Linked DNA regions of Homo sapiens. The protein of the gene in region 3 interacts with the protein of the main gene of each other region in a biochemical or structural test. Each region holds a gene or a part of one and is shown on either strand. Other genes may lie near its edges. The genes, in order: EPB41L2, RAB3C and FKBP2.

The links.
Region 1: the proteins of FKBP2 (region 3) and EPB41L2 form a complex in vitro, tested with the Homo sapiens proteins (one study listed by BioGRID).
Region 2: the proteins of FKBP2 (region 3) and RAB3C form a complex in vitro, tested with the Homo sapiens proteins (one study listed by BioGRID).

What each region holds. Positions count from the first base shown.
Region 1 is NC_000006.12:131,056,696-131,060,343, forward strand, and holds part of EPB41L2 (band 4.1-like protein 2), read right to left. Parts: intron 1-3,648. UniProt on the Homo sapiens protein: Required for dynein-dynactin complex and NUMA1 recruitment at the mitotic cell cortex during anaphase.
Region 2 is NC_000005.10:58,848,472-58,852,119, reverse strand, and holds part of RAB3C (ras-related protein Rab-3C), read right to left. Parts: intron 957-3,648; coding exon 769-956; 3' UTR 1-768.
Region 3 is NC_000011.10:64,239,666-64,243,930, forward strand, and holds the start of FKBP2 (peptidyl-prolyl cis-trans isomerase FKBP2 isoform 1 precursor), read left to right. Parts: upstream 1-1,429; 5' UTR 1,430-1,467; exon of another isoform or gene 1,468-1,614; coding exon of another isoform or gene 1,615-2,412; exon of another isoform or gene 2,413-2,548; intron 2,549-2,691; exon of another isoform or gene 2,692-2,718; coding exon of another isoform or gene 2,719-2,722; coding exon 2,723-2,893; intron 2,894-3,533; coding exon 3,534-3,646; intron 3,647-3,785; coding exon 3,786-3,832; intron 3,833-4,175; coding exon 4,176-4,211; intron 4,212-4,265. Other genes in the region: uncharacterized protein LOC114841035, read left to right, coding at 1,615-2,412. UniProt on the Homo sapiens protein: PPIases accelerate the folding of proteins. It catalyzes the cis-trans isomerization of proline imidic peptide bonds in oligopeptides.

The DNA.
Region 1 (3,648 bases), on a different chromosome or scaffold from region 3:
GTTCATTTAATCCTCATGTAACTCTGAGGTAGGTATGATTTTTAACCCCTTACTACAGCAAACGAGGCTTTGAGAAATAATTTGCCCAAGGTCACAATGGCATATGTGGCAGTCTAACCAGCATCAAATAGAGTGGACATGTTACTGATTCCTTCTAATCAATATTCCATCAAAGAAATTTGTAAGGAAATAAATGCACATTCATTAAGTTCACAGGTAAGAATATGAGTGGCCAGGATTATATCAGAATTCAGTTTAACCTTGACAGTTAGGTAAATGGGGGTCAACTAAATGAATTCAATTGAATGGAAAGAAGTACAATGGGAGATAGGGGAGAATAAATGATGAAAAGTGCAATAGGGTGAAAAAATTAAAAAAAAAGAGAAAAACAAAATACTCTTAAAACTTCCATCTTCTAATCTCGAAAATAAGAACTGAAACATCAGTTCTCAATCTTTTCTGTTTCCCAAAACCCTTTCAAAAACCACTCCTAAAGTTCTCTTTCTCCCTTAACCTGTCTCTCTCATCCACTTGTGCACACACACACAGAGATGCTGCACACACACAGGAGTGCATGCACATGGGAACACAATACCTCACTTACAGTCTCAGGCAGTTTATGCACCCATGAGGCCCAAGAACCCCACTCTCCACCCCAGGTCAGGAGTCTGAACCAAATAATCTCCCTCAAGGTAAATGAATCTAGGGTGAAAAACAAGTAGCTTCTGGACAAAAAGAGAAAGAAACAAAGAATTATGGCAGAGTGTAAATCACATTTTAATTTTATGTCTTCAAGCTACTGGGATATGTACATATATCAGTAGAATGTAGGAAACTCTGAAAAATATGAGTGAATTCAGCACTGTTGTTATAATGGCCCAGCCCTGAAGCTCATCAGCAGGTCTGGAAACGTAAATACAAGGGCTTGGAAAAGGTGACTTCAGAGTTGGTAATCAGAACTATATGACAAGCTTTTTAAAACCACAATTATCCTGGAAAAAGGCAACTGAAGGGTAACATAAGTTTTTAAGTATTTGAAAATTCTTTCATGAAGGTTGATGGTGAGGCCCTAAGAGCAAAGCAAGAGGAAACTGGTCTCTTCAGAAAGATTTGATTTAAATGCATGAACTACCCTACCTGACCTAGGCAATAAGGTCCGATAGATGAACAGTGACAAAACCACTTTGGGAGCCTTTCCATGCCTCCTAACCTGGAAAGAACTAAAATGATCCCCATGATGCCGAACTTAGTTATCTATGCAAAATTTCAACTTGGCTATCTAAAGCAAAACCTTATTTAAGATACAGGTCAGATCTCAGGAAAGATTGTTCTTATCCTTCAATTTATTCCAGATTATTTGGGAGACAATCTATGTACTTTTTGACTTTATGGCTCTAATAAGGTAGAGTGAAAATATGCAAAATTCAGAGAGGTATCTGTGAAGTGAAAACATGTTTCCATTTTAAAGATAACTGAGAATATGAAATTAGCTCAATTGCAATCTTTGAAGAAAAAATATCCAGAAGCAGTATGAATGCACTCATAGATCACATGAAATCTATTCCAATGCCAAGAAGTAAGAGACATCACTTTAAAATAAGAAAATTCAGAAAGCCTCTGAAATTCTAATTAAAATTAATACTATCCCAACACCATGGAAATATATAGCCTATCTACTCTCCTAGACATGAAAAACATGCCTCTAAGAAACTTACAACACAGATCCCAAGCCAACCACAAAACCAGGAGAAACAATATCAGTGGTTAGAAAAGCAAATAAACATTACCGACATGATATTTCTACATGAAACATTACCCATTTCTATGTCAACTCTATCAAAGAATCTTCACTAAAGATTCTTCACCTCTAATATATTAAAGGTTCAATGAATTAATTCATCAAATATTTATTAAATACAATGAGTAGGTGCTTCACATCACAAATACCTATAATATTCCCTCTCTCATATGAAATACACACACATACACATACTTTATAGAAAAAGCTACCAAAATCTATTAGCTATAACTATAAACCGGCTGGGTGCGGTGGCTCACACCTGTAATCCCAACACTTTGGGAGGCCAAGTCGGGTGGATCACTTGAGGTCAGGAGTTCAAGAACAGCCTGGTCAACATGGTGAAACCCTGTCTCTACTAAAAATACAAAAATTAGCCGGGCATGGTGGCACACGCCTGTAATTCCAGCTACTTGGAAGGCTGAAGCACGAGAATTACTTGAACTGGGAAGACGGAGGTTGCAGTGAGCCAAGATCACGTCACTGCACTCCAGCCTGAACGACAGAGTGAAACTGTGTCTCAAAAACAAAATAAAAACAACAACAGCAACAAAAACTATAAATCATTTCTAGATGATAACTGAGATTATTTATTTCTTTCCTTCTTGGCTTACCTATAACTTTTTTTTTTTTTTTTTTGAGATGGAGTCTGGCTCTGTCACCCAGGCTGGCGTGCAGTGGCGCAATCTCCGCTCACAGCAAGCTCTGCCTCCCGGGTTCACGCCATTCTCCTGCCTCAGCCTCCCGAGTAGCTGGGACTACAGATGCCTGCCACCACGCCTGGCTAATTTTCTGTATTTTTAGTAGAGACGGGGTTTCACCGTGTTAGCCAGGATGGTCTCGATCTCCTGACCTCATGATCCACCCGCCTCAGCCTCCCAAAGAGGTGGGATTACAGGCGTGAGCCATCGCGCCCAGCTATAATTCCTAAACAACTCTAATAGCTAACTTGGAGGCCATTTCCCTATAGTTAATGACATCAGGCATTGACTCCATTTTAGATTTTAGTCTAGGGCACTGCCCACGCAGAGAAATGATACAAATCTCATAATATCAAGTTGCTGGTTTATGCCAAAACATGGCATCCCAAAGGATGTTCTGTCTAGAATTGGTGACAGAATCGCATACAAATCTTCTATTTGCTCAGACATTCCAAAGACATTAGAACTGTTTGCATGTTGAGAGGAAGAGACTAGGGCTAAGAGTGGATCTGCTGACTCCTAACGGTTCAGCCCTGAGATTCCAAGATTCTATAAAAGAGCAGTGAATTAGGGTTTGGCTATTATTTGCTGACTACGAAAGCCAGCATAAACATTTACTTCAGGCTTTGAAATCTGTAAGGGTACCCAGTGGTTAGGTACAGTAATTCTGAATCTGAAAAAAACAAGCCCACTGGAAATGTTTCTAAATAAAGGTGGGATGGAGGAGGTAGGCACATTTCTTTTGTTTTCTCCAAGTAAACAGCACAGATTTTAGAAATGCAAAATGTGACTCAGTGGTATTGATCCCTATAAACTGTTTATTTGCCTTATAAAACTAGTAGCAATTCACACTTTTCAATAAAAAGCCCACACATAGCTTTTAAACAGGCTACTTCAGTTCAAAAAAGAAAGAAAAAGGCCCATGTCTTCAGCTGGGATTACAGGCGTGCGCCACCATGCCCGGCTAATTTTTGTATTTTTAGTAGAGACAGAGTAGAAACAGAAACAAAACAAAACCTTCAAAAATATTTAGCATTCTGCTATATAAAATATAAACCCTATATTCCTAAATGAAATGGCAAAGATACAACCTTTGTAGTTCACCAGCCACAGTAATATGAGAGGGGTGATTCAGGGCAGAACCTGATG
Region 2 (3,648 bases), on a different chromosome or scaffold from region 3:
AATGATGTTGAATATTCACAGAATTGGGAAGGATCAGTGGAAAAAGCAGTCCTGGGTAGATACTTGCTTATTTAAATGTGTAAACGAAGATTATTGTTAAATAGCCCCAGTCAGGTAATATTAATGACTTAGGAAAATTGCAAGGACCTTAAAAACAACATTTCAATTTCTTTATAGGCCAATGATCTCAGTTATTAATAACAGTGAAATAAAGACACAGTTCCCAACAGTAAACTGACCAGACTCGTGACAGCGTCCCTAATCATGAGAAAAACTTCCATTTGATTTTCAACTAAGAGTAAAGCAAATGAAGTCTTGTGACTTCTTCCTCTGCACGCATGCGGGCATGCGTGCACACACACACACACACACACACACACAAGCAATTCCTTGGTCATCATTCCTACAAGTGAATAGCATAATTTGAATCAATGGGACAAAAGCCAGTTGTAGTGAGATTATAGTCTGATGTCCCAGAAGTAGTCTGAGAACAAATTTGAAACAAAAAGAGCCTAGCAGACAAATAAATAACAAGTCACATGCAGGTACCAGATGTTTATAGATGGATAGTCCTTATAAATTTAAGATCACATATTTGCCACATATTAAACAGGAAAGCTCCCAAGAATTGAATGCGTACGAGCCATTGACATCAATTTATTCCTTCAAATAATTGTTAGGCAGTATAAATGAAGGCTAATAGACCATTTACAAATGCTGTTTGTTGGCAACCAGAGCCCCCTGGAGCTGCCTGTGTGCACGGGGACACTAGCAGGCACAGTTGGGCTGCGGTGGAGGAGGAGTTTCCTTGAGTCTCGTGTTCTGCTTTGCAGCAGTGATGGCAGGATCAGTCTCCAAACTCTCTGACATTTTGTCGCAGATGATATCCACAAGGCGCTCAAATGTCTGCTTGACATTAATGTTGTCCTTGGCACTTGTTTCAAAAAACTCAAACCCTGGAAGAAACACACAGAAACACATCTTGGTTATTTTGCATTTCTGAAATTAAATGGGACTTGATTATGGCTTTCAATAGTGATGAGGTGATGGTGAGACATCAGTGGGTGGTAGGTTTGGGGTAGGTAAGAGATTAGAGGTGGGCATGAGGTACCATTTAAGCAAATGCTACCATCTCTTACTCCATTAACCATGAACAAAAGAGTTATAAAGTGGAATTGGTGATGTTCACATTTTATTTTTCTCTGTTGATTCATTTGCATTATCAGCATGACTGAATAGATTAAAAATATTCTATTGCAAGAGTTAGTAATGACAACAGTAAGAATCCTCAATACCAAATCTATCTGTAAGAATCTTCAACACTAAATCTAGATTTTCCATCCCTTCCCTCAACCCCTAGCGCACCATGTAGACTCTTGCAATCTTTTCATGGCATTATTTGGCATCTTATTCTGTTTTTATTTCCAGATTCTACCAAAATTTTTAATTTCAATTTTTTAAATCAATTTAAAGCTCAGAAGGCTTGGTGTGCATATTCTGCTGTAAAAGGGAATACCAAGCTCCAATATAATCCAGCTCTAACTTTTCCATGTCTGCCCTGCTGCTGCCTAATGATCGGTCTGAGAGTGGGCTTCTAGTAAATTGTCAGTATCTAAAAGGACACAAGATGGCACTGAAGAGTCATAAGATTTACCTTAAACCTGCTTCAACCTCCTTCAGAAAATTTTTGAGTAGTGTTATTCCAACAGCCCTCCAGGGCTTTGTATACCTCTGCACCTATCAGCTGGGTGCTGATTTTTCCATAGCTTCTGTTATCTATCAGCAGGAATGTTTTTACCAACATCTGGGAAAGGGCACTTGGTAAATTTCAAATGAGCTGCCAGAGATTGTTAAGAAGTTACAAAATGCAGCAACAGTTTCACACTTTCACCTATGTGCCACTGTACCTGGGCAGAAGCAGCCTTAGTATGCTGCTCTGTACACAGTCTTATCACTCTATTGTTTGCATTCACATTCCACTGGCTGAGCTTGCCAGTCAGTTGCCATGACAACCTCCCCACTAGGCCAGCCAGAGATTGCTCTGGTCCATTCAGGGGACGTTGATTTAGGATGTGTTGGGCTGAACATAGAAAGGCTTTTCTAATCCATTCTGAATTTTACACCCTATAAATCCTTCTGGTTACATCTGGCCCTATCTCAGAGGAGCCGCATGGATTCAAAATGATGAAATCATGTGATTTCATCCCAGCTCCTGGGGCCAAAGGAAAAAGAACAGATTAATATTTTGCATCCATGTCAAAATCCCTCAAATAACCTAGAAATACTTATTTTCTTAAATAGTATTGAAGCTAGACAACAAAAGGCAAGTGTCGTGAGTTAAAATCTCCAACTTAGTCGTTATACTATTTGGTTCAATGACTACATCTGAGCTTGAATTTCACTAGCTACTCTCGTTAAAATCCACATGAATAACTGCAGGATTGGGGTTGAAGAACATCAGTAGAGTCAAGGTTCTATAAAATAGAGCTGGATATTTCAAACCATTGTGGCTTGTATTTTTCTTTCCTTTTGTCTCTCTGGACAATGCTTATATGGCTCTCTTATAGTCTACATTTTAAAAATCTGCAGATAAGGCCATCTGGTGTTAACAGAGCTCTCTTTTATAATGTTTGTGCAGTCTTTAGAGCTAGATCGTTCAACTTCCAGTAATTCAATCCAGATTTGGGGAAAGGCAAGCATGGATCTAAGCAAGATCCTTGTTGCTAAGATATCAGAACTATTGGCATGCTTGTGGTGATTTTCCCAGACCTAATGGGAGGATGCTTTATGTCATAAGATACCAAGAACCCACTGAAGAATTCAAGATCCCTGAATGAGCCTTTGAAGAAAAAACATCCAAGAATTTGGTACAAAGGTCTCATTTACAAGTTCAATTTTTTCATCTCTTTTGCTAACACTTCTTGTACTTATTAGTATGATTTGGGAAGTCACTGAGCTTGAACGGTATCATAAAAGATTTAGCCATTATGAAAAGATGATAATCCACACAAGGTTTTATCAAATGTGACTCCTTTACCCTGGGCATCTCAACACCCTATCATCATATTGGTATACAATTTGAGGTCAGTAAAATTATCTTTGATCTCAGAAGCCAACATGATCTCAGCTTCTCAACCTTAACTGGAACCCTAAGAATATGTGGCTATTAAAGAGACAATGTGCCAGAAATAATGGCACCTATTTATTCAGCATGCTGAGAAGGAGACATCATGATATGGTGAGAGATAGATTATCAGTCAAAAGATGTGGGATCTAGCCCCACTTAGCAACACTTCTAGCTTTGGGACCATGAACAAGTCACTTTAAAAAAAATCCTTAATTTCCTTATTTATGACATTTGCCTTACTTAACTTACAGGGTTATCATGAGGCTAAAATGAGAAAAGATAGGCATAAGTGCCAAGCAAACTAGAAAATGCTATGATAACAACAATAGCAATAATAAACTAACATTTGTTGAATGATTACTATATAATAGGTACTATTCAGAGCATTTTATACATTTTAACTCATTTTATCCATTAGTAGGTACCATTATTTTCTCCAATTTACTGATGAAATAGAGGCAGAAAATGGCTCCGTAATTTGCTCAAGTATTTCGTTGCTCAGCTAGTAAATGGCAAAGCTG
Region 3 (4,265 bases):
TGGGTGAACCACCTGCCTCAGCCTCCCAAAGTGCTGAGATTAGAGGCGTGAGCCACCGCGCCCGCCCAACCCACACAGTTTTCTCCACCCTCGCCTCCCTTGCATCCTGCAGCTTCCTTCATCATCAGTTGCTGCCTGAGATTCTCCTGACTTGTCTATCCTAGCCCAAGCCCAGCCCCTACCCTTCTCCCTGCAGCCTCCAGTGCCCAGGGCTGAGTGGTTTGGGGTGGATGAAAGGCCAACCTTGGGCACCACTGCTTTGCCTGCTGAAGCAGGACATTCAGGGGCAGAGTTAACTCAATTGGGCAGCCACTGGGAGGGGCAGCCACCCTAATGGAGGCTTTCTCTGAGGTGTTGGGTCAGAGCATGTGGGTATGATCTTAGTGGGCCTAAGGCAGGAGTGGGTTGAACCAGGAGACAATTCCTGACAGCGATTACTACTTTCAAATCATTTTCTCAGTCATGATGTCACTGGACATGCCATAGGTCAATTAGCATGAGGCAGAAAGGGGTTAGGGCCCCAGAGCTACCGCCTCCAGAGCCCAGTTAGCCCCACCAGTCACGCACAATGCTTCACATGCACCTCCTCACTTTCTCCTCGCTCGATTCTGAGGTCAGCATCATGATTGTCTTCCTTTTACAATTGAGGAAATAGGCTCAGAAAGGCTAACTGGCCGGGGGGATTTGACCTCAACTCAGCTGTCTCCCTAACCTTCAACCTAGGTTTAGCTGCCTCTCAACTGCAGGTTCATTACTTCAGTTGACAGATGTTTGGTGGCTGCTGGGGCGCCTGAAAATAAGTCTGGTGGGGGAACAGGCCCAGCCAGATCATTCCAGTCATGAGTCACAGCCCAGGTGCACAGGTAGAGGTAAGCCTGGCTCCTGGGAGAGAGATGTGGGCAGGAGCATTGGCTGGAAGCCAGGGCTTGTCATTGGACATCATCTCGGTCCTGCAGGGGCCCTGTGGGGTGGGTGTCATCAAGCCCGTGTTACACGCCTGTATTGGATGACAAATTCTACCAAGCACACAGCCGACCGGGAGTTCAAACGTGAGTGTCACTGTGAAGCCCAGGCTCCACAGCGACTGAGGGCCGTGGGCCATGATGAGGCCCGGGAAAACAGGAGTGCTGTGGGAGAGGCTGGGGGCGACTTGAAATGGCGCCTCAAGACCCCCTCCGGGAACCCACGCCCGCCTGACCTTACTATCACCTCGGCCGGAAGTGTCTCCGGCCTTTTCGGAAGTCACTTTCACCTAACCTTACAGACTACCGCTCCGCCGGAAGTGACGCAGGGCAGCGGCGTCGCGGGGGCGGGGCTCGGGAAAGACCCGTGCCAGCGGGCGTGTGGCCGCGGGTTTCGCACGGTCCAATAAGGGAGGGCGGCGTGGCCCGGCCTGGTAGCGACGAGGACGCGCCTGCGCAGAGGCGGCAGCACCACCGGGGTTGACTCCGGGGGCGCGGCGAGGAGGTGAGCGGGGGCCACAGCCCGGGCTGGGGGGAGCCGGGGTGCAAGAGGGCAGGCTGGATCAGGCCGGGCAGAAGCGGACCGGGCTCCGAGTGTCAACGAGAGCTAGGTGACGAGGAAATTGGGGGTGGGGGCCGGAGCTGTCCGGAGATGCCGCAGGGGGAGGGTTCTCACGCCGCACGGGGCGGAGTCCTGGGACTCGGGGCGGGACGTGGAACCGGGACGGGTGGGACCTCCGAGCTGGTGCCAGTGGAAGGCGGAGCCCGGCGGCGGGGGGCGGAGCTAGGAGGGTCGGGGGACGGAGCCTGGCTCTTGAAGGAGGAGCTGGAGGAGGTGAAAGGCGGAGCCTCGGGGTCGGAAGCAGAGGGGGACGGAGCGGAGGCGCTGGGGGCGGGGCTTCAGCCGGTGAGTGGCGTGGCTACGGCTCCGGAAAAGGGGTCTAGTTCTGTCGAAGGCGGGGCTGCAGGCCCGGGGGCGGTACCGCGTCCTCCGAAGGGCGGTGCCAAGGAGCCAAGTGAGGAGCCTGGCCCGAGTAATGGCCCCGGGCGTCCTCGCGGGGGTGGTCTCCGTGGTGGCCGGGCTTGGGGACGCCGTAGGCCGAGAACTCCACCGGGAGAGGTGGTGTGGGTGGAGCGGGCTCGGCGGCCAGCAGACACAGGGCCAGTCTGGGTGCCCCGGAGACCCCCAAGGGCTCAGAGTTGGGGCGGCGCCCCGGGCGGAAGCACAGGGCCAGGCTGGGGGGTATCTCCCGAGGACCCGGGCTCCTCGGAGCCACCCAGTGGGGATGTGTGGGTGCCTCGGGGCCGGCCCCCTGCAGCGGCCGCAGAGGTGTTGGTGTGCTGGACCGGGGGCAGCTGGGTGTGGCGTGAGTGGGGCCGCCCAGTCGGGGCAACTGCAGTGCAGCCAGATAGGGTCTGGACTTTGCGTAAAGGGACAGGCGGGAACTGAAGAGCGGAGGTGGGGACTGGGAGGGAGGGAAGGTATGGGGGTGAGCAAAGGGGCGGGTCCCTGGCTGCTGTGGCCTCCCCTGACCCCCTCCCCCCGCTGCTGGGGTCCTCGGCCAAGCCCCCTTCTCACTGGACTGGTAAGTGTGGCCCCGGAGCCCGGGGGAGAGGGCGGTGACCCGGGACAAAGGGGATCCCCCGGGGCAAGGAAGATACAGTGGCGGTGGAACCCTCCTGTTACCTACCCGTGTTCCATACTCTCCCTGCCCTCCCCCACGTTCAGTCGGTCGGTCGGGGTCTGTGCCCACAGAGACATGAGGCTGAGCTGGTTCCGGGTCCTGACAGTACTGTCCATCTGCCTGAGCGCCGTGGCCACGGCCACGGGGGCCGAGGGCAAAAGGAAGCTGCAGATCGGGGTCAAGAAGCGGGTGGACCACTGTCCCATCAAATCGCGCAAAGGGGATGTCCTGCACATGCACTACACGGTGAGTGGGTTGGGCGGGCCTTTTGGGAGTGGGTGGGGCTTCCGAGGACCAGAGAGTGCTTGGGAGTCTGGTTCTCCATAAGCCAGGTAGGTGACCTTGGGCAAGTCCCCTCTCGCCTCTAAGCCAGTTTCCATGGTTCTGCCTTGCCCTTGCCTACTGCCCAGGTGGGCACCAGCAGGCAGTGACAGTGTACTGTGAGCTGCCCAAGGCTCTGTCCTCTTAAAGAACTATGACCAGCTGGGCGCAGTGGCTCACCCCTGTAATCCCAGCACTTTGGGAGGCCGAGGCGGGTGGATCACCTGAGGTCAGGAATTTGAGACCAGTTTGGCCTCATGATGAAACTTTCTCTGCTAAAAATACAAAATTAGCCAGGCGTGGTGGCGGGCGCCTATAATCCCAGCTACTTGGGAGGCTGAGGTGGAAGAATTGCTTGAACCCGGGAGGCAGAGGCTGCAGGGAGGCGAGATCACGCCGCTGCACTCCAGCCATGGCAACAGAGACTCCATCTCAAAAAACAAAAAGGACTGACCACCAGGGCTGTGGGTGGGCGTGGGGGGGCAGCTTGATGGGGAAAGCAGCTGAGGGAGGGGGTGTCAGGGGTGGTCCCCTCTTCCTCACTGGCCTTCTCATGGTTCCACAGGGGAAGCTGGAAGATGGGACAGAGTTTGACAGCAGCCTGCCCCAGAACCAGCCCTTTGTCTTCTCCCTTGGCACAGGCCAGGTCATCAAGGGCTGGGACCAGGGGCTGCTGGGGTGAGTCATGGGGGAATGGGCTTGGGAGTGGGGGCGTGCATGGCCACCGCCCAGGAGGTAAGCTGTGGGAGGCAAGCCCCAGGGATACAAGACAAGGGCCCTGGGTGCTGCCATGGGCTGAGCATGTGTCTTCCTGCAGGATGTGTGAGGGGGAAAAGCGCAAGCTGGTGATCCCATCCGAGCTAGGTAAGAGGCCCCTCCTGAGGGTGCAGAGCGAGTTTGGGGTGTGTGACTGGGAAGGGTGAAAGCTGCTTCAGCTTTTCATTGGTCTTCACCGTATCCATTCATTACAATACATGCCTCCTCCAAGTTTGGCTGTGTCTAGCAGTGAGTACAGGGCAAGATCATTGAAGCACTCAGCTGTAGTGGCCCCACTCTGCCCTTGCCAGGCCTTTGGCACCCCCTTCCCATCTCCATTACCCTTCTCCATTTCTGGCCTTCTTGCTGAGAGGGGCGGAACACTCTCCCTTTGCCCACACTGGAAGGGAGCTTGGCCATCACTGACTGTTTCTTTGTGCATCTTCAACAGGGTATGGAGAGCGGGGAGCTCCCCCAAAGATTCCAGGTAGTAAACCTTTTGATACCTCCCATCACCTGCAGCCAGCCCACCTCCCTGTGG